3 linked regions of the Homo sapiens genome follow. The main gene of each other region encodes a partner of the protein of the gene in region 2 in a complex. Links are inferred from orthologs where the notes say so. Each region holds a gene or a part of one and is shown on either strand. Other genes may lie near its edges. A codon is read from its position in the direction of its gene.

Evidence for each region.
Region 1: the proteins of RNH1 (region 2) and RNASE2 are in contact, whole or in part, in a crystal structure (PDB 2BEX), measured with the Homo sapiens proteins. Residues at the interface, in NP_002930.2 of Homo sapiens: Gln11, Cys12, Arg34, Asp36, Asp37, Arg64, Ser65, Gln93, Asn94, Asp122, Gln148, Glu150, Tyr151, Thr176, Lys205, Trp262, Trp264, Glu265, Trp319, Lys321, Gln347, Ser349, Asn350, Trp376, Ala378, Asp379, Glu402, Asp404, Asn407, Cys409; in NP_002925.1 of Homo sapiens: Lys28 (codon at 1,452), Trp34 (codon at 1,434), Trp37 (codon at 1,425), Gln41 (codon at 1,413), His42 (codon at 1,410), Ser47 (codon at 1,395), Gln49 (codon at 1,389), Thr51 (codon at 1,383), Asn52 (codon at 1,380), Gln55 (codon at 1,371), Val56 (codon at 1,368), Asn59 (codon at 1,359), Gln61 (codon at 1,353), Arg62 (codon at 1,350), Arg63 (codon at 1,347), Cys64 (codon at 1,344), Lys65 (codon at 1,341), Asn66 (codon at 1,338), Gln67 (codon at 1,335), Ser91 (codon at 1,263), Asn92 (codon at 1,260), Arg95 (codon at 1,251), Asn97 (codon at 1,245), Asn111 (codon at 1,203), Leu112 (codon at 1,200), Thr113 (codon at 1,197), Thr114 (codon at 1,194), Pro115 (codon at 1,191), Asn119 (codon at 1,179), Ile120 (codon at 1,176).
Region 3: the proteins of RNH1 (region 2) and RNASE1 are in contact, whole or in part, in a crystal structure (PDB 3TSR), measured with the Mus musculus proteins. The link is inferred for Homo sapiens from one-to-one orthologs. Residues at the interface, in NP_001165571.1 of Mus musculus: Cys7, Asp32, Thr60, Asn89, Asp117, Glu145, Tyr146, Asn174, Glu202, Trp257, Trp259, Glu283, Ser285, Trp314, Lys316, Glu340, Glu397, Ser401, Asn402, Gln426, Val428, Tyr430, Asp431, Ile432, Tyr433, Trp434, Thr435, Asn436, Glu437, Arg443; in NP_035401.2 of Mus musculus: Arg26, Glu27, Lys32, Gln36, Pro48, Thr49, Gln53, Lys56, Arg57, Met60, Asn62, Gly63, Ser64, Cys65, Lys66, Pro67, Val68, Asn92, Lys94, Asn96, Leu111, Lys112, Gly113, Asn114, Ser115, Lys116, Asp121, Ala134, Glu136, Val143.

Annotation. Positions count from the first base shown.
Region 1 is NC_000014.9:20,950,266-20,957,304, reverse strand, and holds RNASE2 (non-secretory ribonuclease precursor), read right to left. Parts: upstream 1,819-7,039; 5' UTR 1,769-1,818; intron 1,539-1,768; 5' UTR 1,534-1,538; coding exon 1,048-1,533; 3' UTR 869-1,047; downstream 1-868.
Region 2 is NC_000011.10:504,025-512,262, forward strand, and holds the start of RNH1 (ribonuclease inhibitor), read right to left. Parts: upstream 3,219-8,238; 5' UTR 3,089-3,218; exon of another isoform or gene 2,438-3,088; intron 978-2,437; exon of another isoform or gene 973-977; 5' UTR 800-972; intron 453-799; exon of another isoform or gene 403-452; intron 1-402. UniProt on the Homo sapiens protein: Ribonuclease inhibitor which inhibits RNASE1, RNASE2 and angiogenin (ANG). May play a role in redox homeostasis. Required to inhibit the cytotoxic tRNA ribonuclease activity of ANG in the cytoplasm in absence of stress.
Region 3 is NC_000014.9:20,800,187-20,808,115, forward strand, and holds RNASE1 (ribonuclease pancreatic precursor), read right to left. Parts: upstream 2,659-7,929; 5' UTR 2,611-2,658; intron 2,179-2,610; exon of another isoform or gene 2,063-2,178; intron 1,908-2,062; 5' UTR 1,883-1,907; coding exon 1,412-1,882; 3' UTR 1,042-1,411; downstream 1-1,041. UniProt on the Homo sapiens protein: Endonuclease that catalyzes the cleavage of RNA on the 3' side of pyrimidine nucleotides. Acts on single-stranded and double-stranded RNA.

The sequences.
Region 1 (7,039 bases), on a different chromosome or scaffold from region 2:
CAGTGGATGGAAAATTACCTAGAGGAGATATCAAGGCTAGGGAGACCAATGCTAAGTTGATGTAATTGGATTTTTGTTTTTTGAAGGTAGGTCAGGAATCAGTTATCACATGGAGGATGATGGGGGAATTAAGGAATTTGGTCAAATATTGAGGGTGAGAGACTCATGATAAACCAAGTTAGGAGGACTTCTGTTAAACCTGACTTTAGGTCTGGCACTGGTGGCTCATGCCTCTAATCCCAGCACTTTGGGAGGCTGAGGAGGGCGGATTGCCTGAGGTCAGGAGCTGGAGACCAGCCTGGCCAACATCTTGAAACCCCCTCTCTAAAAATTACAAAAATTGGCTGGGTATGATGGTGCATAACTGTAATCCCAGCTACTCGGGAGGCGGAGGAAGGAGAATAGCTTGAACCTGGGAGGTGGAGTTTGCAGTGAGCTGAGATCTCGCCACGCACTCCAGTCTGGGCGACAGAGCGGGACTCTGTCTCAAAAAATAAAATAAATAAAATAAAATAAAATAAAATAAAATAAAATAAAATAAAATAAAAAATAAATACAAATGACTCTACAAGGAAGGACTAGGAAGCCCAACAGGATGACCTAGTTGTGAAGAGGGTTTAGAGGAGATGACTAAAGCTTGATCAAAGCAAGAGTCTTCGACAGTTGCTAGATATCGGTTGAGACCTCAGCTTCTCAGCCTAAAGCAGGGAGAGGGATAAGACTGTGCTGTTTCATGACAGAAAGCGTCTCTTATCTTCAAATCTCTCTGTTTCCCGGAAGTCTCAGGTTAGAGGAAGAAAAATCTCTAGAGTAGATTGTCACTAAATGACAGCAGAGCGGCTAATGAAGACACACAGACACTTTCAGATGAATTTGCAAAGCAGTTTATTGCAGGGTTCACAAGGCACTTCAGCTCAGGAAAGCTGAAGGGGTATGGAGACTGATGAGGACAGATGCTGATACCCAAAGTATATGGAGAGATGGGATCTTGGCTATGATTGAGGAGCTTGGCAGATGAGTGATGATGAGGAGTGCTGATACAGGAGCTTAGATGATTCTATCCAGGTGAACTGGAACCACCGGATACTGTGGAGGGTCTCGTCGTTGATCTCTGTTGTCACATGCAACTATATAGAACATGTTTGCTGGTGTCTGCGCATACCTGCAGTTTGAAATATTCTGTGGACTTGGAGTTGTGAGGTTACAGTGGATTAAAGGCACCTGGCTTCCACTGTGGTGACAATTTTTGCGAGTTTTGTTACTAGGACAGGTCATATTTGGGTTACCACAAACATTAACTACGTTAGCAAAAGTTGTAAGAAGGAAAGTATTTTGGTTTTTGCATCGCCGTTGATAATTGTTAATGACCTGCATTGCATTGGTGCATTGCTGGGAGGTCATATTGATGTGCTGGGTTTCAAACCATTGAGCCCAGGTAAACTGTGGAGGTTTGACATGGAGTGAGCCCTCCACAGCCAGAAGCCCCAACAGAAGAAGCAGACAAATTTGGGAAGTGAACAGTTTTGGAACCATGTTTCCTGTAAGAAAAGAAGAGAAGTAACTACTCCCTGATCGGGTCTTGGTTATGACACACACTGTAGTGTCTTACCCCACAGGCCCCTCTGCGGCCACTCTGGGGTCCCATTTCCTTTACTTCCTGTCTGCAAAGTGTGCAACGTCTCCTAAGCACTAACGTCAGCTCTCTTCTCCCTCAGTTGCTGCCCCATTGCTGCCCCTTCTGTCCCAGCTCTGGGGATCGTTGACTTACCCAGTCTCCGCGCTGTAGCTCCTGTGAGAACTGATCCAGCTGGTTGTTCTGGGGTTCAGGGGCAGCTGGTCTCCCCTACTTGGAACTGTTTAAATAAAGCATCCCTTGGTGGGTTGGGCCAGCAGAGCCCAGAGGGAGGGTCTGGCTCTTGGCCATGCAGAAACCCACAGATTGGTACATAGTCCACTTGTGCAATCATCCTTTTTATTTGATGACTTGGCTGAGCAACGGATACCCAAGGACAGCCCTGCTGCTCTTTCTGCTATAAGGACTCTAATTCCAAGTCATCCTGTGTAAGACAGAGTTTTGCTGGTTAGATCCAAACTCTGGATGAAAACTATATGCTGCCTGCAGAATGACCACAGATTTTATAACTGTCCTCTGGCAGGCCACTAAATGACCAAAGTACATGAAGGCAGGCATAGTAGTTAGAACAAATAGAGCCACTGAGGGCTGTTTGCCCAGGAGAAACCCAGCTTCCCTTTCATTTTTAGTAATATCCTTGGTTCTCTCTCACACAAATGCTCTCCATCTCATCCACCACTCTTGCTGGAAACTTGAGCTATTAATTTCTTAGGGCACAAGATTCTGTAGATAATTAAAACAATCTGCTACACATACTTGAGGGATTTTTTTCTTTACTCCTCTTGCATTGGATCCACTTTCTCTTAAGTCTTGCCCTGATTATTGCTTCCACTTTGTGTAAAGTTACACAACCTAAAAACACACCGAGGACAGTTGTAAAGTCTGGCAGAGAATGAATGAACATTTGGTGTCATGAAAGATTCCAACCTAGCACTCGGTATTCCTGTGATCTTTTCAGCCTATGGTATTTTCTACAAAACACTGTGTTCTGGGGTTGTCATTCATCTTCCTGGTAAGTTTCATTTTGTGATATTAACAAGAAAATGGTTCTGTATTTACAAATGAACATTTAAGGACAGAGCACTGTATTCCTGAAAGTATAGAGGTCAAGTGTACAGTTTGATACACAAAGCATACATTTATTCTTGGCCCTCAGAGACATACAGGAAAGTAATTGTAGACACATAATTGTATTACACTTGTGTGAACATGGTTTCATGGGGACGCCGAGGGTGAAGGAAATCACTTGGCTTGAGGGACAAGGAAGACTTCAAAAAAAAAAGTTTGATTTCAGCAGGGCCCTAAAAGATAAGCAGGGAGTTTTCAGGGACTTTAGGGAAGAGATGAGCATTCTGGGCACAGGGGATGATGTGGGGAAATTGTACAGAGGTGGGAAGTGAATTGCAGTGGTAAGACCTGAGTACTAAGAGATGTTAAATCTGGTCTAGCTTTCAGATTAGAAAATTGATATTAGACCCTTAAATGATATAATATACCTTCCAACAGTTAATCTACATAATTTTTACTACCATCCAATTTTCCTGTCATTTAGAAATGCAATAATTTTATCACTGGGGTCCTTAGGTAAATGTGGACACAATGGTGACCCAGTGAGGACTCAATGCGCAGCTAATATTGCTCTGCCTTGAAGTCCTCTTCTGGCCGACATTCATTAGCAGCTTTATCATGAAGCAAATTCTTTTTTCATGTATATTGTGTGGAGATCATTTTTGCAGGTGATGAGAATGTAAAGGTGAATGATACGTAGAGTATCCGCTCTGTGATGCTGACAGACACACTGGGTAGAAAGACTTGCACTCAAGTGTCTATAGTATGAGGCAAAAGACATAGACTGCAGCCCCAGGGCAGGTACCTGGCTAAACAGTGCCTCTTTTCAGCATATACAGTGCTATTTATAATGTTTGGTTTGGAAGGTAAAGTTTGACATTGGAATAGTTCACTAAAAGTTTTCATTACTGTCTTATCTTTAAAAATCACATGATGTTGGTTGGTGCACTGTGTCTCCGTTGCTGTGTGGTATCAATTAGAGCTGGGTAAAGCTGCCTCTGTGGAAGGGGCTCTAGCTCGGGGCTGTTCTCTGACTCCATCTCTGCCTCCTGACTTTCATCCTGTCTGTTCAGTAATGACACCTGCCTGGCTTCTGGAGACATCTGTGCTTATGACGCATCAGACTTGTTGCAGTGTCTTAAGAAATAACTCAGACCATACATAACCTGCCCAATTTGCAACCATATTCATCCTTTAAAATTGTGGTTTTTTTTTTTTTTTTGAGATGGAGTCTTGCTGTTGTTGCCCAGGCTGGAGTGCAGTGGCGCGATCTTGGGTCATTGCAACCTCTGCCTCCCGAGTTCTCCTGCCTCAGCATCTCGATTAGCTGGGATTACAGGCACCCTTCACAATGCCCGGCTAAATTTTGTACTTTTGGTAGAGACAGGGTTTCACCATGTTGGCCAGGCTGGTCTCAAACTCCTGACCTCAAGTGATCCGCCCCCCTGGACTTCCCAAAGTGCTGGGATTATAGGCATGAGCCACCACTCCTGATCACTAAAATTGTATTGAGAACATGCTCATAAGATTTTTCTGATTCTCCCTTGTGTAGATTTCCTGTGTACATTTCCAACTACTTTCATTTGCCTGCAGAACTTTAGAAAAGATCTACTTTGATATTTACGAGCTTTGGGAGAAGACTGTTTTATATGAAGCAGGAATAATAAAGTATAAGCCAACGGTAAACAAAATTCTCTGTGACTTCAGCATGATTTTGTCTTGAACAGACACAAGCCACTTCTCCCGGGTTCTTTATTAGCATAACTTGTCTTGCAGCCTAATTTAACGACACATTTTCAGACCCAATGCACACTTCCACTCAGAGGAATAGTCAGAATTATGCCCCAGTATTAAGTCATTTTTTGGAAACCGATGAACATTGTAAAATATTGTCCCAGACAAAGACTTCTCCATTTATGGTAAAAACCACTGTTGAGTACACTGCATTGATCAATGACTTTTTGCATAGCATTTATGTGCAAAAATATAATGTTTAACACTTGCAATTTCTTCAGCCCCAGGGTACCCTTGCAATATTTGCTCTTAACCTGCTGACAGGGAGGTACCAAACCATAGATACCTTCCTGCACACAGATTTCCCTAATGCAGCAGTGGCTATCTATGGGAAAGACAATGCACACTATTTATTAGGTTGGTGCCAAAGTAATTGCAATTTTTGCCATTAAAAGTAATACAAGATTGTCATAATAATATGGTGCAGGTTAAATTGCACCAAATTGAGTAATATTTTACTTACCTAATTTCTAAAGATATTTGGTGTACTGAGCTCTTCCTGGTCTCTTAAACCTCAGAAAGGTGGCCCTAGGCCTTCCCTCTTATGTGGGGCCTCCTGCATGTCTCCTCTGAAAGCCATTGAATAAGTAGATCTGACCCCTTCGATTAAGTTTCTGGCATGAAAGAGGAAAGAAGTAAGCCTTCTCCTTTTTCCTCAACTATAACAAGTCCTTTACTTCTCTGGAAAGGGAAGAAATGGGAATAGAGCCCCGATGGAATTATGGAGAGGTGTGTCTTAGGAGGGATGAAATAAAGTGTGTTTCCTAAGAAACTGGAAAATTGCATTCGTGTCCCATTGCATATTTTTAAAATCTTTCTTTCTTTCTTTTTCTTTTTCTTTCTTTCTTTCTTTCTTTCTTTCTTTCTTTCTTTCTTTCTTTCTTTCTTCCTTCCTTCCTTCCTTCCTTCCTTCCTTCCTTCCTTTCTTTCTTTCTTTCTTTCTTTCTTTCTTTCTTTCATTCTTTCCTTCTTTCTTTCTTTCTCTTTCAGATGGAGTCTCACTCTGTCACCCACGCTGTAGTGCAGTGGCAAGATCTCAGCTCACTGCAACCTCTGCCTACCGGGTTCAAATGATTCTCCTTTCTCAGCCTCCCGAGTAGCTGGGATTACAGGCGTGCACCACCACGTCCAGCTAATTTTTCTATGTTTGTAGAGATAGGGTTTCACCACGTTGGCCAAGCTGGTCTTGAACTCCTGACCTCAGGTGATTCGCACACCTCAGCCTCCCAAAGTGCTAGGATTACAGGCGTGAGCCACGGCGCCTGGCCTTATTTCTTTTTATTGATACATAATAGAGGTACATACTTTCAGGGTACATGTGATAATTTAATATATTCACATAATGTGTAAAGATCACATCGGGGAAACTGGGATATCGAGTACCTTAAATATTTGCCTCTTCTTTATGTTAGAAACATTCAAATTATTCTCTTCTAGCTATTTTGAAGCATACAGTAGATTATCATTAACTATAGTCATCCTCCTGATCTATCAAACACTAGGCCTTATTTCTTATATCATTTCTTATATTTGTACCCCTTAAACATCCTCTGTTCATCCCCATTGCATTTTGAGCACACAGATGCATTTGCTAAGATTTCAGAGCTCACACAAAATGAATTATTATATAGGTTAGTGTCTCTTTAAATGAAGTTGTTATATAAGTTTTGTGTTACAGCGATGTCGGGTATAGATTTTGTATAGTCTTGTCCAGATACCAGCTCTGACATTTTCTATTTGAGGCTCTTACTATAAGAGTTGTACAGGGCCAGGTGCTGTGACTCATGCCTGTAATCCCAGCACTTTCGGAGGCCAAGGTAGAGGGGTCACTTCAGGCGAGGAGTTTGAGACCTGCCTGGCCAACATGGAGAAATCCTGCCTCTACCAAAACCACAAAAATTAGGTCGGGCGCGGTGGCTCATGCCTGTAATCTCAGCACTTTGGGAGGCTGAGGTGGGCGGATCATGAGGTCAGGAGATCGAGACCATCCTGGCTAACATGTTGAAACCCTGTCTCTACTAAAAATACAAAAAATTAGCCAGGCGTGGTGGCACGGGCCTATAGTCCCAGCTACTCGGGTGGCTGAGGCAGGAGAATCGCTTGAACTCAGGAGGCAGAGGTTGCAGTGAGCCGAGATCACCTGCACTCCAGCCTGGGTGACAGAGTGAGACTCCATCTCAAAACAAACAAACAAACAAACAAACAAAACACACACACACACAGACACACACACAAATTAACCAGGCATGGTGGAGTGCACCTGTAATCCCAACTACTCAGGAGGCTGAGGTAGGAGGATCACTTGAACCTGGGAGTCAGAGTCTGCAGTTAGCCGATACTGCGCCACTGCCCTCCAGCCTGGGAGACAGAGTAAGATCCTGTCTCTTTAAAAAGAAACAACAACAACAACAAAAGAGTTGGACGGTTATTCATCCTTGCTATGCCTCTGTTTTATAACCTGTAAAATACAACAACACATACATTGGTTTGTAGGGGAAGTTTAATGTGGTAATTTGTGTGTGTGTGTATGTATGAAATAATTAA
Region 2 (8,238 bases):
TGGTTGAGGCAGGGATCTGAACAGAGGCCCTAACGGTCCCTTATCCGGAGACCAGACTTTCTCAACCTTACGGAGGGAGGTCTCCGCAGCACCCAAGGCCTGGGCCCCACCCTGGGGAGCCACATGGGAGGGGCCGTCTGGAGGCCAATTCAGGTCCTTATGTTCCGACGTGACGGGGGCGCGGGGCCACCCTCTAGGGAGACACGGGCCACGCTCAGGCGACGCGCAAAAGTTCCCGGTCCCTGGGACCCCCGCCCGCGCCCGCGTCGAGTCCCTCGAACCTGCTAGTTCTGGACACCCTGCTGCAGACTAAAGGGCTGGGAGGAAACCTCACAAAAACACGAAGGGGGTCTCCCCTGCCTCTCTGCCCCCGCCCGCGCCCGCTCCGCCCGGGACGCTCACCCGACGCCGCCGCCGCAGACCCAAGGCCAGAGCCGCTCCGCGTTCCTTCCGCCCAGGCGGGGGCGGGCGGAGCCTCCAGGCCGGGGCTGGCGGGGAGTCCACCCTGGGGGCCGCGCCCGCTAGTCGTCGCCCACTCGACCCTCTGGGCTCAGCCCCCGGGCCTCGTCCCAGCTACTACCCCAGCTTTCCCACTCCCCCCTGGGTCGGGGGTGAAGCCTGACGTCCGCATCCCGTTTCCCACTCTGGCCCCAACCAGCCTTTCCACCGTACAGCCGCCTTCCCCCAGACCATCCCTCCAGCTCTGGCAGCTCCCACCACCCTCGAGGGACCGGCCCCTGCCTCCTCCCACAAGCAGGCCGGATTCCAGGAATTGCCCAAACAATAAAATAAAGCAAACCTGAGACACCCCTTTTTGCTACCAGACTGGAGAAGGTGGAACAGGTTGACGATGATTTGTTGTAGCTGAGGCGAACGGGGCGAGGCTGTGAGGACGGGTTTTGGAGCGCCGCTCGGCCGTCCTCAAAACTTTGGACACACCCTCCGTTTCTGTCAGTCAAGAGTTCTTCATGCCTGAGCTCGGGAAGCATGTTCAAAATCTTTTTTTTTTTGTTTGGTCCCGCCTTTCTGGACCAAACCAATGGATATCTTAAATGTATTTCATTAATGCCTCATGTCTCTCTAAAACATGTAAAACCAAACTGCCCCAACCACCTTGGGCACATGTTCCCAGGATCCCCTGAGGGCTGTGTCACCGGCCGCGGTCACTCATATTCGATTCAGAATAAATCCCTTCAAATATTTTACATTTTAACTATTCTTATCGACAGTACATTTTTTAAAATAAGAATGGCCCTGAAAGATGTCCACCTCCTAATCTCCAAACCTGTGGTGTTACCTTAAGTGGCAAAAGGGACTTTGCAAATATTAAGAATATTGAGATGTGAAGGCTACCCTGGGGTGTCTGGGCGGCCGGCATATAATCATGAGAGTTCTTATGCAGAGACAGTAGGTTTTGAAGATGGAAGAAGGTGGCCTCTAGAAGTTGGAAGAGGAAAAGAAGCAGATTCTCCTTGGGAAACTCCAGAAGGAACTACCCTTGCCAACACCTTGATTTTAACCTCCTAAAACTCACTTCGGGCTTCTGAGCTCCAGGCCTATAAAACAGCCTGTGACAAATTCGTTATAGCAGGGATGAGAAAATAGCTCACTGCAGCCTCCTCTTCCAGGGCTCAAGTGCTCCTCCTCCCTCAGCGTCCCAAGTAGCTGGGACTACAAGCGTTCACTACCGCAACTGGCTAATTTTTTCTATCTTTTGTAGAGACGGGGGTCTCACTATTTTGGCCAAACTCAGTATGTTGGTCGCAAACTCCTGGGCTCAAGAGATCCGCCCGCCTCGGCCTCCCAAAGTGCTGGGATTACAGGCTGCAGCGCACCCAGCCTAATGTAACTTTTTTTTTTTTTTTTTTTTTTTGAGAAGGAGTTTCGCTCTTGTCAGCCGGCTGGAGTGCAGTGGCACGATCTCGGCTCACCGCAACCTCCGCCTCCTGAGTTCAAGCCATTCTCCTACCTCAACCTCCCAAGTAGCTGGGATTATAGGCGCCTGCCACCACGCCCGGCTAATTTTGTATTTTTAGTAGAGACGGGTTTTCACCATGTTGGCCAGGCTGTTCTCGAACTCCTGACCTCAGGTGATCCGCCTGCCTCTGACTGCCCGGCCCAGTGTAACTGTTAACGGCAACATCGTGTGCAGTCTCCGGCTTGCATTCGGTTTAGTCAGCCAATCGCTAAGACGACACTTGAGACCGTTTTCAGATCTTTAGGCTTTCCACCATCCTAGAAGGGGGCCTGCCTGGTTCTAAGGCCCTTCTGAAACACTGCCAAACTGTCCTCGGGAAACGGTGCAGAAGTCCTCTGGTTTCCCCCAAGGCGCGTGGGCACCTTGGCTGGAACCTCGCCCAGTAACACGACGTGCCTGGGGCCCCTTCGTCATTTCCGCCAACCCCGGTGACAACCCTGACACCGGCCCCTAAGTGCCATTCCAGTTATGTTGCTCTCCTCCCCGCAGCCCCAGGCGGCAGCTTCGCGGCCCGGCGTCCGGTCCCCCGGTGGTCCCGGAGCGAAGCTCCGCAATGGAGAGCGGAGGACCCTCCCTCCCCGACCTCGCACGACCAAGACCGCCCACCTTTCCCCCAACGCCCGGCTGTGGGAGCCGTTCGAGTCTTCTCCGCCAGGGCGCTCCTTCCCGGGAGGCCGCTTCTTTGGGGGAATAAGGTCAAGGATTACGGGATTTGGGGAAGCAAGCTCGGCTGGGCCAGGATTGCTTGCGTAGCTCGCTGGAATCTAAGGCACTAGAGGGCTTGACGGCCACGTGAGGACGAACCACGCAGGCGCAGCCCCGCGCCCCGGGCAAGGACTTCCGGCAAGCCCCAAAGGGGAGCGTGCACCGCGATGACGTCCTCAAGGCGCGCCACGTCCGCCCGGCGGCGCAGCTGCCCAGCGCAACCTCGGCCCCGCCTCGATAGCCCCGGACCCCTGCCCCGCCCGACCCCGCCCCGCCACGGGAGCGCGCCACTCGCCCGCGCAGCAACGGCCTCAATAGCGCCAGGCCCGCGTCTACAAGAAGCCCGACCAAGGCCGGCGTGGGCGAGGCCTGGCTAGACGCTGACGCACCGCTGGAGCTACTGACCTCGGGACGACTGGCGGACGGTCGCGGGCCTGGAGACCCAGAGCGAGACGGCCTACTTCGTTCTCGAGCCAGCAGAACGGGTTGAACGTGTCGACAACCCCACCCGCCAGTCAGCGGCGCGGGCGTGTTCGAGCCGGCTCGTGGGCGTGGTCAGGTGCGTGGGCGGGGACTACTGGGCGGGGCTCGGCGCGGGGGCGGGGCCTGGCGGGAGTAGTCTCGGGGTCGGGGCGGGGCCCGGCGGGCGGGGCTCGGCTAAGCACAGTCTTGGCGCAGCGGCGGGGCCTGGTGGGGCGTGGCTCGGTGAGGGAGGTCTCGCTTGGGGGCGTGGTCTCCCCCAGTAGGCGGGGCTTGGTGCCGGGGGCGGGGTCTGGCGGGCGCGGGCGCGTGTGCGTGTTGTGGGCCTCGCACTGGCACGCAAGTCTCAGCAATTCCTGAGAATCCTCGGAGGAAGAGGCCGGGGCCCGGTGCGGCAGCGCCTTGGGGGCGGAATCGCAGGCGCGGGTCGGGCCTTGCTGGGGCGCGGGGCGCGGCCCCCGGAGAAAGCGGCCGCCTCGGGACAGGAGGGACCCGGGAGAAACCCCCCTGGGGCGGCTCCGCATGTCGGGGTCGCGACTCTAGGCGACCTTGGTAGAGGGGCTCGTTTGCGCCGAGCTCGCGACCCCCGAGGGAGCCACGGCCCCGTGAACCACGCTGCCCGTCCTGGCCACTGGCTGCCGCCTTTGTTTCGTGGGACCCCAGCCCGCAAGGCCTGCGGAGCCGCGGCCTCGTCCCGAGTGTTCTGAGCGCGGTCCGAGCTGCTCCTGCGTCCACTCTGCTGCCGACACCCGAGCGTCGCCTGGAGCCCTGGCACTGAGGGGCGCAGGCCGAGTTCCAGACCAGCCTGGGAAACGCAAAGCGACCCCACCTCCACAAAAGTGGGTTTTCTTTAAGTTTTTGACTAGTCCGCAATTCACAGAATTGACATTTTGGCAGATGAAGATTGCAAGTAAGGAAACTAACGGTATCTCAGATTTGTTCTTTAGCAATTTGCTAAACCTCTCCTCTGACTGCCTTTATTAGGTATTTGTTTTCGAGACAGGGTCTCACTCCACTGCTTAGGCTGTACTGCAGTGGCGCGATCCCAGCTCGCTGCAGCCTCCACCTCCCGGACTCCAGTGATCCTCCCGCCTCAGCCTCCCAAGTAGCTGGTACCACAGGCGCCAGCACGCCTGGCTAATTGTTGTATTTTATGTAGAGAAGAGGTCTCCCTGTGTTGCCCAGCCTGGTCTTGAATTGGGCTCAAGTGATCCTCCTGCTTCAGCCTCCCATATCGCTGGAATTACTGGCATAAGCCACTACACCCGGCCTGATCATCTTTAAAGAAGGTGGTTCTGGCCGGGCGTGGTGGCTCACACCTGTAACCCCAACACTTTGGGAGACCGAGAAGGGTGGATCACCTGAGGTCAGGAGTTCAAGACCAGCCTGGCCAACGTGGTGAAACCCCATCTCTACTAAAAATACAAAAATTAGCCAGGCATGGTGGTGGGCACCTGTAATTCCAGCTACTTGGGAGGCTGAGGCAGGAGAATCGCTTGAACACGGGAAGCAGAGGTTGCAGCGAGCCTAGACCACACCATTGCACTCCAGTTCGGGCAACAAGATGAAACTCTGGCTGGGCGCGGTGGCTCACACCTGTAATTCCAACACTTTGGGAGGCCAAGGCAGGCAGATCACCTGAGGTCAGGAGTTCAAGACCAGCCTGGCCAAGATGATGAAACCCCATCTCTACTAAAATTACAAAAACTTAGCCAGGCATGGTGGTGCATGCCTGTAATCCCAGCTACTCAGGAGGCTGAGGCAGGAGAACCACTTGAACCCAGGAGGCAGAGGTTGCAGTGAGCCAAGATCGTGCCACTGTACTCCAGCCTGGGCAACAAGAGCGAAACTCCATCTCAAAAAAGAAAAAAGAAACTCCGTCTCAAAAAGAAGGTGGTTCACACACACACACACACACCCCCAAGAAAGCTCAGGGCTGGAAGGCAGCCAACCTGGCTGTGACCCTCATCCTGCACACGTGAGCTTGGTGACCAGTAGCTGATTCTTTAACTCTCTAAGCTTTGGAGTCTGGATGTGAGGTTTAGAATTCATGACAAGAAGCTGGAAGGATGCCGCCAGTCTGACTCCTGGACTGGTTCTCTTGACATCTTTGCAAAAGCTGCTGAAATGTTCTGGTTTCATTTCATTCTTTTCTTTGCCATGATCTCTTAGATTTGTTCGTGGCAATTCTCATAAGAGTGAAGAAAATGTTTAAAATGGCTGTTGGGCTCCCTTTTGTGACACCTTGTGGGGAAGGTGCCCAGGTATGTATAGGTGCTGAGCGCACGGCCAGCATGGTGTCTGTGGCCGGGCCTCCCTCCTGGACAGTGCGGCCACAGCCCCTGAAAGGTATGTCTTCATTTTTATTTTATTTTATTGAGATGGAGTCTCGCTCTGTCGCCCAGGCTGGAGTGCAGTGGCGCGATCTCGGCTCACTGTAAGCTCCGCCTCCCAGGTTCAAGCCATTCTCCTGCCTCAGCCTCCCGAGTAGCTGGGACTACAGGCACCTGCCACCACGCCCGGCTAATTTTTTTTTTTTTTTTTTTTTTGTAATTTTAATAGAGACAGGGTTTCAGCGTGTTAGCCAGGATGGTCTCGAGCTCCTGACCTTGTGATTCGCCCGCCTCAACCTCCCAAAGTGCCTGGCCTTCATTTTTATTTTTGAACTTACCTGCCTCACCTCGTTATGTCTTTATCTTATTTTTAAACTTACTCAGTTCACCCACTGTGGAATTGGGAGTATATGGAAGTATTCCCACCCCCAGTTTTATATACCGCCCCAGAGCTGACCATTCTCGCTCATTTCCCCGGGTCCTGGCCGACTCGAGTGTGCCTTTCCTTCCGATCCTGCTCCACACAGATCTGAGGGATGCTGCCCTTTCCTTCTCCACCTGCCCCTCCCTCACATCCAGCCCCACCAGCCTACACGTTAGCTTAAATAGGGAGCTTTTACATTCCCCATGAAAGGGAATCCAGGGACAGGCTGAGGCAAGAGACCCCCAGTGTTCATGAGATGCCATCTAGAGAAAACACCGTGGTGCTGAAGGCCTAAGTCAGACCCCGGGGAGAGAGGCACCAGGGTGACTTTGGGTGGAGAGTCCTGTGCCTGTTCTACTTCTATAAATATACTCAGGTCAGGCACGGTGGCTCACGCCTGTAATCCCAGCACGTTGGGAGGCCGAGGCAGGCGGATCATTTGAGGTCAGGAGTTCAAGACTAGCCTGGCCAACATGGTGAAACCCCATCTCTACTAAAAATACAAAAAAATGGCTGGGCACAGTGGCTCACACCTGTAATCCCAGCATGTTGGGAGGCCAAGGCAGGCAGATCATTTGCGGTCGGGAGTTCAAGACCAGCCTGACCAACATGGAGAAACCCCGTCTCTACTAATAATACAAAAATTAGCCAGGCATGGTGGCACATGCCTGTAATCCCAGCTACTCGGGAGACTGAGGCATAAGAATCGCTTGAACCCAGGAGGCAGAGGTTCTGGTGAGCCGAGATCACGCCATTGCACTCCAGCCTGGGCAACAAAAAGCAAAACTCCATCTCAAAAAAAAAATACAAAAAAATGAGCTGGGCGTGGTGGCCTGCACCTGTAATCCCAGCTACTTGGGAGGCTGAGGCAGGAGAATCACTTGAACCCAGAAGGTGGAGGTTGCGGTGAGCAGAGACCACACCACTGCACTCCAGCCTGGGTGACAGAGTGAACCATGTCTCTAAATAAATAAATAATATGTTTGTCTGAAAGTGCCTTTTTAACAAAGTATGAGATGTGTACATAAAGTGCACATAGCGCAAGTGTCGCACGCAGTGGATTTTCACACGCAGCACGTGAAATGGGAAAACACTGGCCCGGCACGGTGGCTCACACCTGTCATCCCAGCACTTTGGGAGGCCGAGGCGGGCGGATCACAAGGTCAGGAGATCGAGACCATCCTGGCTAACACGGTAAAACCGCGTCTCTACTAAAAATACAAAAAATTAGCCGGGCGTGGTGGCGGGCGCCTGTAGTCCCAGCTACTTGGGAGGCTGAGGCAGGAGAATGGCGTGAACCCGGGAGGCGGAGCTTGCAGTGAGCCAAGATCGCGCCACTGCACTCCAGCCTGGGCGACAGAGCTAGACTCCGTCTCAAAAAAAAAAAAAAAAAGAAATGGGAAAACATTGAGGATGAAGTAGCAAATATTTGAGAATTCAACTTGATTGGTGGCTGTTGCAGGTTCATACGTGAGTGGTTACGTAGTGGGTAGTTAAACTGACAATGACCAGCTGAATTTTGGTGACAGGACTGCTCCTAAGGTTTGAAATGTAGCGTATCCTCTGATTCACGGGCTAAGCTCTGCCACTTAGCAGGAGGAGCTCATGATAGAGCAGGTTGAGGGGAAAACTTTGCCCCATAAGGGTTCTTCACTGCAAGTGAGAAGGTCTTGGCTTTGAGCCTCCAATTTCAATCAGACAGAAAGCAGACCAGTCGGCAGGACAGTATATGCCTCTGGAGATCCGTGCTGATGTGGGGGCCTCAGATACAAGATGCCTCAGGGCCCAGGCGTGACCCTCTCCTTCCCTCCTGCACGGAGATGCTGTGAGAATTAGACACTCCCACAGGGCCCTGTCAGACACTGAGCTAGCCTCTGGGAACCGGAAGATATTCAAAACACCAGCCACCCCCCACACACACAGACAAGGCGCTGGAGGGACAGCTGTGCAGCGGCAGAGCATGAGAGGTCTTGATCAGTTAACTCAGTGAGGTTAGGAGGCGAATTTTTTTTTTTTTGAGATGGAGTCTTACTTTGTCACCCAGTCAGGAGTGCAGTGGCGTGATCTCGGCTCACTGCAACCTCCGCCTCCTGGCCTCAAGTGATTCTTCCGCCTCAGCCTCCCGAGTAGCTGGGACTACAGGTGCGTGCCACCACACCCAGCTAATTTTTGTATTTTTGGTAGAGACAGTGTTTCACCACGTTGGACAGGCTGGTCTCAATCTCTTGACCTCGTTATCTGCCTGCCCTGGCCTCCCAAAGTGCTGGGATTATAGGTGTGAGCCACAAAGCCTTTTTGTTTTCATTTTTGAGATGGAG
Region 3 (7,929 bases), on a different chromosome or scaffold from region 2:
GCCCACCAGCAAGCTCTGGGAGAGAGCTACCGCTCCACAGCACTTACTGAGGAGGGGAGCTTTCTTCCTGAGTTAGAGCAATGGCTTCCTGAGTTAGAACAATGGCTTGGAAGTCAGGAAACCTAGGGTGTAGTCCCGGCTGTGCCACTAACTAGCAACAAGCCATGTGCAAGTCACCGGAAAGGCAGGGGTCACATTTGGTCAGGGATGGCAAATGTGTGGCACACACACCCTTCCCCCTCTCGTGCCTTCGATAGAGGCTGTTGTTCAACCACACCACTGTCCAGAATTTTTTGCTACAGCATTTTGGGTAGGCACTTCCTTTTTTTTTTTTTTGAAACAGAGTTTCACTCTTATTGCCCAGGCTGGAGTGAAGTGGCACCATCTCAGCTCACTGCAACCTCCGCCTCCCAGGTTCAAGTGATTCTCCTGCCTCAGCCTCCCTAGTAGCTGGATTACAGGCACCTGCCACCACGCCCCACTACTTTTTGTATTTTTAGTAGAGAGGGGGTTTCACCATACTGGTCAGGCTGGTCTTGAACTCCTGACCTCAGGTGATCCACCTGCCTCAACCTCCCAAAGTGCTGGAATTATAGGTGTGAGCCACCACGCCCGACCGGCACTTCCAATTAGAGTTGGTACACAAACTGAAATCTACTTGCTATCCCTCAATTCCGTGCTCTCCAAAGTCACTTCTGGCTCTAAAATGTAAGGTTCTGGCTTTCCAACTAAGAGGTGCCCATTTTTCTGATTTAGTAATAGCTCACTCAAAAAAAAAAAAGGAAAATGGAAATTTAGGATCATAATTTCATTGAGTCCTCTTCCCCACCCTGAGGCTAAGCAGGATCTTCCTGAGGTCACACTTGCCTTCCTTCTGTGCCAGAGAATGATTGTATTTGAGCTTCACCCCTCTGTCAGTTCACCCTGCATGGCAGTGTCCCAGGCTGTAGCTCCCTTTTGTCTAAAACAGCCCACACTTAACAGTTTTATGTTTGGCATCAGGGAATCTACAAGGAAAGGAATTTTCTCAAGCCACTAAAATCCAAGTCAGAAGGGAAGGCATTTAATTACTCCATTCACCGTTCTCCAAAGTGAATCAGATTTACAGTTCTTACCCCTTGCTGGAAGGCAATGCCAGAAACAGTACCTAGACAGAACCGCTTCAGAAATCAGGTGTTTGCAACTGCGTTTTATTGAAAGAAAGAGTGGAGGGGTTAACATGGGGCCCACCTCACAACCCACTCTTCACCCCCAAAATCACGCAGGGATGGGACTCAGGAAAGGGAAGCATGTGTGTGTTGAATAGGAGCCCTAACTGTAGTTACTTCTTTCACAGCAGGGAAGGAAGAGGGAAGAGGCAGCTGTGGAGAGGATGAGGTTGAGGGAGGTGGGGTATCTCGCTGCTCTGACCTTAGGTAGAGTCCTCCACAGAAGCATCAAAGTGGACTGGCACATATGGGCTCCCTTCACAGGCCACAATGATGTGTCTCTCCTTCGGGCTGGTCCGGTATGCACAGTTGGGGTACCTGGAGCCGTTTGTCAGGCGGCAGTCTGTGATGTGCATGCTGGAGTTGCTCTTGTAGCAGTTGCCCTGCCCGTTCTTGCAGGTGACCTTTTCCTGGAAACAGACATTCTGGACATCTACCAGGGGCTCGTGCACAAAGGTGTTCACTGGTTTGCACCGCCCCTGTGTCATATTCCGGCGCCTCATCATTTGGTTACAGTAGGTGGAGCTGCTGCTGGGGGAACTGTCTGAGTCCATATGCTGCCGCTGGAATTTCTTGGCCCGGGATTCCTTGCCCAGGGAAGGCTGGACCCAGCCCAGCACCAGCAGTATCAGGACAAGCAGAAGGAGCCGGACAAGAGACTTCTCCAGAGCCATGGTGGCCTCACTTTCCCAGAAAAGCCTAATTGAGAAAAGGAGAGAGAAGGAAAAGAGCCCTCTTAGAAAAAGAACTCCAGCTCCCACCTATGGCTTGCCTGGTTTACACTTTCTGTTTCAGGTCAGCCAGAAAGACGTCCATCCTACTTCCTGAGGTTTTTCGTGTAATGAGACACTCACGTGTACCCTTTTCCACGAGCGTTTTATTCCCACTCTCCAAAGCGAGGTCTTCCTCCCCTCTAGGTGGTGACCTACAAAGTGACCTAAAATCCTGTCAGTTCCTATCTTTGAATACTGGAGTTTCTTTGATCCAAAATACATTTGTACCCAGTGCTCAAATGGCTCATCGAAACATCAGTTTGAATAAATCATGAACCAAATTGTATCCCCGACATCCAGGGCCATGGGTGACAGAGCCTTGTTGTCTTGGAGCATAAGGGAACTCAGGCCAGTGCCTGACACTGGCATCATAAAAGATTCCATTGTATTCCAGAGAGAAACGCTGGCCTCCCCCAATTTGGAGGCTCCTTCTTCTCCAGTCCCATGGATGCTCTGCAGCCTGCACGTTCCACCCTGACCCCTCTGCCCCCAGCTGATGTTTGCCTGGGCCACATTTTTTCAGCGCTAGCATCACCCAATCTTTCTCAGTGCTGTGGACTGGCCCTAGCTCCCTCTTCTGCAACCCTGAAGCAGAAGCGGCACCTGAGAACACCTCTTGGGCTGCTTACCTGGATCTGCAGCTTGGTGTCTGAGAGAGATGGAAGGCCAGTTTCTGCAATCACTCAGCTCCCGGGGTGTGGACCTTATACAGATTACAAAGGGGTTTGGCTTCCAAGAGGAAAAGGGTGGGAGGAGCATCTGGAGCTCAGTTCAAATAAAATCAAGGACGTGAGGAAGGAGTGGTGAATCACCCAGGCCGCCGTCTTTCTAGGGCTGCTGAAGAAAGAGCAAATCTTTGCCTACGTTAGTCTTTCTTCCTATGTGAACCACATCTGTCTGCTGATGCACAAGGAGCAGCAGAGAAAGCCACTACAGCACTGGTGCCCAAACCTGGCACACTAGGAACAAAGTCCTTGTTACTTCTTCGTGGGCGTTTTCACCAAGTAGACTTGGAGGTTAACAAAGGACGCAAAGGAGAGGTTCTAATGGGAGATAGGGAATTCTGGCCAAAGCTATTCCAGGGCTCCTAGGGAGCAAAACCCAAGTCTCTTTCTAGGAGGGCATTCTCCCAACGCTACCTCTCCCGGGGATGGGAGGCGGGGTCGGGGGGAATGGAGGCTGTCCTGCTGCCCCCAGCTGGAAGGCTTCCCAGATCTGGAGAAGAAAGGGGGAGTAACTGAATAGGGAGGAGGAGGAGGCCTCTAGGGTGCGCTCACCCAGTTCTGGCCACTTCCCACCCACCCTCCACCCCTGCTCTGGGGGCATCGAGAGGATGGGGCTGTTCTTATCTACAGTAACCACTGACCCTGTAGGTCGGAATTGAGTAGAGGAACTAAAGATAAACTTAAATCCCAAATCTCAAATTCTTTTTGGGGAAAAAATACAAAGAATATCATATTTATTAGCAGCAGAATGCCCTCCTAGAAAGAGACCTGTTTTTTTGCTGAGTAACAATTTGGATACCTCTAAGAATTATCAAAATATCCCTTCGTGCTGTGTATTCAGATTGTTTCAGCCTTTCTGTGTAAAAAGTGGCCATAGTGAAATTATCTGACCTACCTTGTGTGATTGTAGGTCGTAAGATCCTCATTCCAGAGAGGGTCCTGCCCCCCATACCCAGAAAAAAAGGACGAATGCTCAGAGAGGCCAAGAAGAATCTAGACAGGGAGGCCTTGCTGGGTTTCCCCACTCAGTCTATTTTCATTAGATCGCCCTGTTGTCCAGTCATATTTCTACACAGCTGTTCATACTTTGTTGATATCCAAGTGTAAGAATGCCCACTTTCCCCTGTTATCTTTGGGTCTTCTGAAGGCTCCCGTGTCGTGTAAAACTACGATCAAATCAATTTGTATGCGTTTTTTCCTATCAATCTGTCTTTTGTCAGTTGATTTTCAGCAAACCTTTGGAGGGTGAAAGGGGAATTTTTCCTTGGCCCCTACAGTTTCCTTACTCCCCCAGCCCCCACCTGTATTTTATTTTTCTGAGTCTTTAATAATACTTTTATTCTCTTGAATAGTCAAGTTAGAATGTGTTCATTCATTCATTAGACTGTGGGATACAGACATAAATAAGGCACAGGACTCACCTGAAGGGCGCCTGGTGGGATGGTTTGGTTAGTCAGGTGGACCCCACTAAGGCACTGGGCGTGGCTGCACAAAAGTGGCCTCCACCCAGCAAGATGATTTCAGAACCACAGTTCAGATGTGAACAGATCTTCTGTAACTATAATAAGGCTCTTCAACAGCCCCTGGCCCTAGGAATCCTGAAACTACAGGAAGCCATTTTGTCTATTTATGCATAGCAATCTAGACAAGCCCTTGGAGCTTTAATTGCACTTCAATGGGGAACCATCAGAAGCCCTTACTGCAGCCTTATCCTTGACCCAGTTGCAGAGGCATAGCCCCGCTTGTCTTAGGGCAGTAGATGCCATGGCAACATTTGTTGTTGCTTCTGCTGAACTTGTTCTAGACTCCCTGCTTGACCTCCTGGTTTCTCACGCAGCACAGGCATTACACCTGACTGAGAACTCACTGCACACTTCAGGCAGCCGATTAACCTCTTATAAGATTCTATCCCTCTCTCCCTCTCATAAATTACTACTCATCTCTGCAACACACTGAATTCTGCCACCCTCTGTCCCTACCAGAAGGGGAGCCTCTTGATTGTCTTACCTCAGTAGGAAACATTCTGCATGTCAGTCAGATTTATTAGCAACTCCTATTGAGAACCCGGACCTAATATGATTTATTGATGGAACATACCCCAGAATTGAAACTTGAAGTTAGTACACTGAGGAAAGAAAAATCAATTCTTCCTTTACCCTCCTAGAGGGCTGGGGGCCCTGTAAATTAAAATGACAAAAGACAGATTTAACAGGAGAAAAGGCATAAAAATTTAATTTAATATTAATATTCTACATGAATATGGAAGTCTTCATAAAAAAAGAAGTGAAGACTCAAAGAAGCAATTAAACCTGAGAGTTTATAGGCCATTTTGACAAAGAAAATTGTGCAGAAGTGACAAGACAGTGTTCCATGAAAGGGCCACATATGTGAAGTGGCCCCAAATGCTGAAGGAGCCTAGAAACTAAAGAAAGGCAGACAAATTCAGTTTGTCAGTAAAGCGTGTTTTATTCTATTGGGGAACTTATAGCCAGAAGTGTCGTCTTGGGCAGCAGCAAGACATGTAAATCTCAGCACTGTTATTCCCCAGACCCAGAGCTTATATACCATAGGGAAAAGGGGTACGTGCTATATAGAGACAATGAAAGGCAACTCTTCAGAACAGGCAAGAATGCTGTGTTTGTCATAGCCCATAATTTGCATGATAACGTTAAGGTTGTTTTGATCTAAAGGCAGGATTTATAGTGAATACATGTTTCTACACTAGAGACAGTAAATAAAGTAGAAATCAGGAGGCATTCCCGGGACATGGTTAATCAGACGTCAACATGGTAGATTAGCATTCAAGATGGAGTCACTTTTGTCTCTGCACATAGGAAAGGGATTTTGAGCTTCTGGGGAGGTTGCGACAAGCGGACTAGGAAATGTATAGTATATAAGGGTTGTTTAGTAAAGTTTGTTAAGCAAATTCAAGTTGGTTGTCTTCTCCATTGATAAGTCCTCCGTGATTAAGTCCTCCTCTTCCTGGCACAGGAAAGGGAGACATCCATACAAATGGGAATATAAATGGAAATTTCTCTTACAAAAGGGAAACTTGGCTAGGCATAGTGGCTCACTCCTGTAATCCCAGCCCTGTGGGAGGCCAAGGCAGGCAGATTGCTTGAGTTTAGGAGTTTGAGACCAGCCTGGGCAAGGTGGCGAAACCCTTTTTCTACAAAATATACAAAACTAGCCATGCATGGTGGCATGCTCCTGTAGTCTCAGCTACTCAGGGGGATGAGGTGGAAGAACACTGGAGATGGAGGCTGCAGTGAGTCGTGATTGTACCACTGTACTCCAGCCTGGGTGACAGAGAGAGACACTGTTTAAAAAAAAAAAAAGGACATTTATAGTTCTTTCACAGCAGGGAAGGAAGAGGGGAGAGGCAGCTGTGGAAATGATGAGCCCTGTTTTTTGAGTTTTTCCTGCATTTACTGTTTTTCAAAATAATCAACTCAAAATTATTGAGCTGGCATATTCTGGTTCCCTACATTATTAATAGGCTATGCTACCCCTATTTTAAACTCTTCTTAAGAAAAAGTCTACTACCTGCAGTAAAATCAGCCCAGATAGCAAAATGTATTGCATTTACTAGAATTTGTCACCTAAACAAAGACCAGAGAGCAAACATATATACAGACTGCAGGTATGCTTTTGAAATAGCATATGATTTTGAGATGCTTTGAAAATAGGCATTAGAAGACCAGGCATGGTGGCTCGTACCTGTAATCCCAGCACTTTGGGAGGCTGAGGCGGGTGGATCACCTGAGGTTGGGAGTTCGAGACCAACCTGACCAGCATGGAGAAACCCTGTCTCTATTAAACATACAAAATTAGCCGGGCATGGTGGCACATGCCTGTAATCCCAGCCACTCAGGAAGGCTGAGGCAGGAGAATCGCTTGAACCCAGGAGGCAGAGGTTGCGGTGAGCCGAGATCGTGCCATTGTACTCCAGCCTGGGCAACAAGAGCAAAAACTCCGTCTCAAAAAGAAAAGAAAAGAAAAGAAAATAGGCATTAGAAATGGACAGCAAGTTAAGGAACTTTCAGATGCACCCCCACTTCCTAGAGAAGTGGCTATTATATAGGTAGAGGTCCATATAAAAAGAGACAATATGGAAACTAAAGGAAATTCTCTAGCAGATCATTATGCCAAAGAAGCTACTTTAACCAAGCTTATGACTCTATCTATACCTTTAAAGGATAAATCTCTGGGGGATTCAAAGAGGCCATTATAAAATATTGACATTTAGCCCCTGATTTTGAAAAAGAATGGAAAACATCTAGTTGTACTCTTCACTCAGATAATTCCTGGTGCTGCTTGGTGACACCAGATGATCTCAAGTAGATATTTCTAAAGGAGTTCAAAACATACCACCCCAAAATATGCCTTTCTGGCATATGGATTATTTTGAATTAAAAGCTCTTGAAAAACAGCAGATGCAAGAAGGGCACTCTGATCTTTCTAAAAGCAGGAGACAATGCTCCCACGTAGCAGGGACCCTCCGTGGAAGAAGGAAGACATTCTTATTACCAGAGATGGGGGCAGCTGAGGTTGAGAGAAAACTACAAATAAACCTTGTTAAACTAGCCCTTATCTCCCTAGCCACTTCTCCACGATTAACAGCCCTAGCCCATATCCCTTTGACTTGTTTTCACAATTTACTGTTCTTTGTCTAACTTAGTATATAAGCATCCACTCAGACTGGTTCATTTCCAGAAGGCTTCCATGCCATGTAAAACTTACATTAAATAAATGTGTATGCTTTTCACTTTTTAATCTGCCTTCTGTTACAGAGCCCCGCCTTAGAACTTAAGACAAATAAGAAAGATATTTCCTCCCCTACATTATCTGGATTTCTCCATGAAACACCCATTATGGCATAGACAAATTGGTTACTATCTTAAGTAAACATTGGTAGGAAAACTTTGAAAAGGCAACTGAGCTTACTTTTGGGTCATGTGTCACCTGTCAAAAATATAACTCTGGAAAAACTGTAAAGTTGGGACATGGCCAGAAACCAAAGCCTCTTTGGACACCTTCGGACTGTTACATGGAATAAAACCTTAGACAAGTGTACATTTTAGCTGAGTTTATTTGAGCAAAGAAAAGCAGAACAAAACAAAGCAAACAAAGCAAAAACAAAACAAAAAAAAGCAGTTCAAAAATCAGGCACGATTTGGAACTAGAGGAAATTCAGAGAACTCCAACCAATGACATAATCTG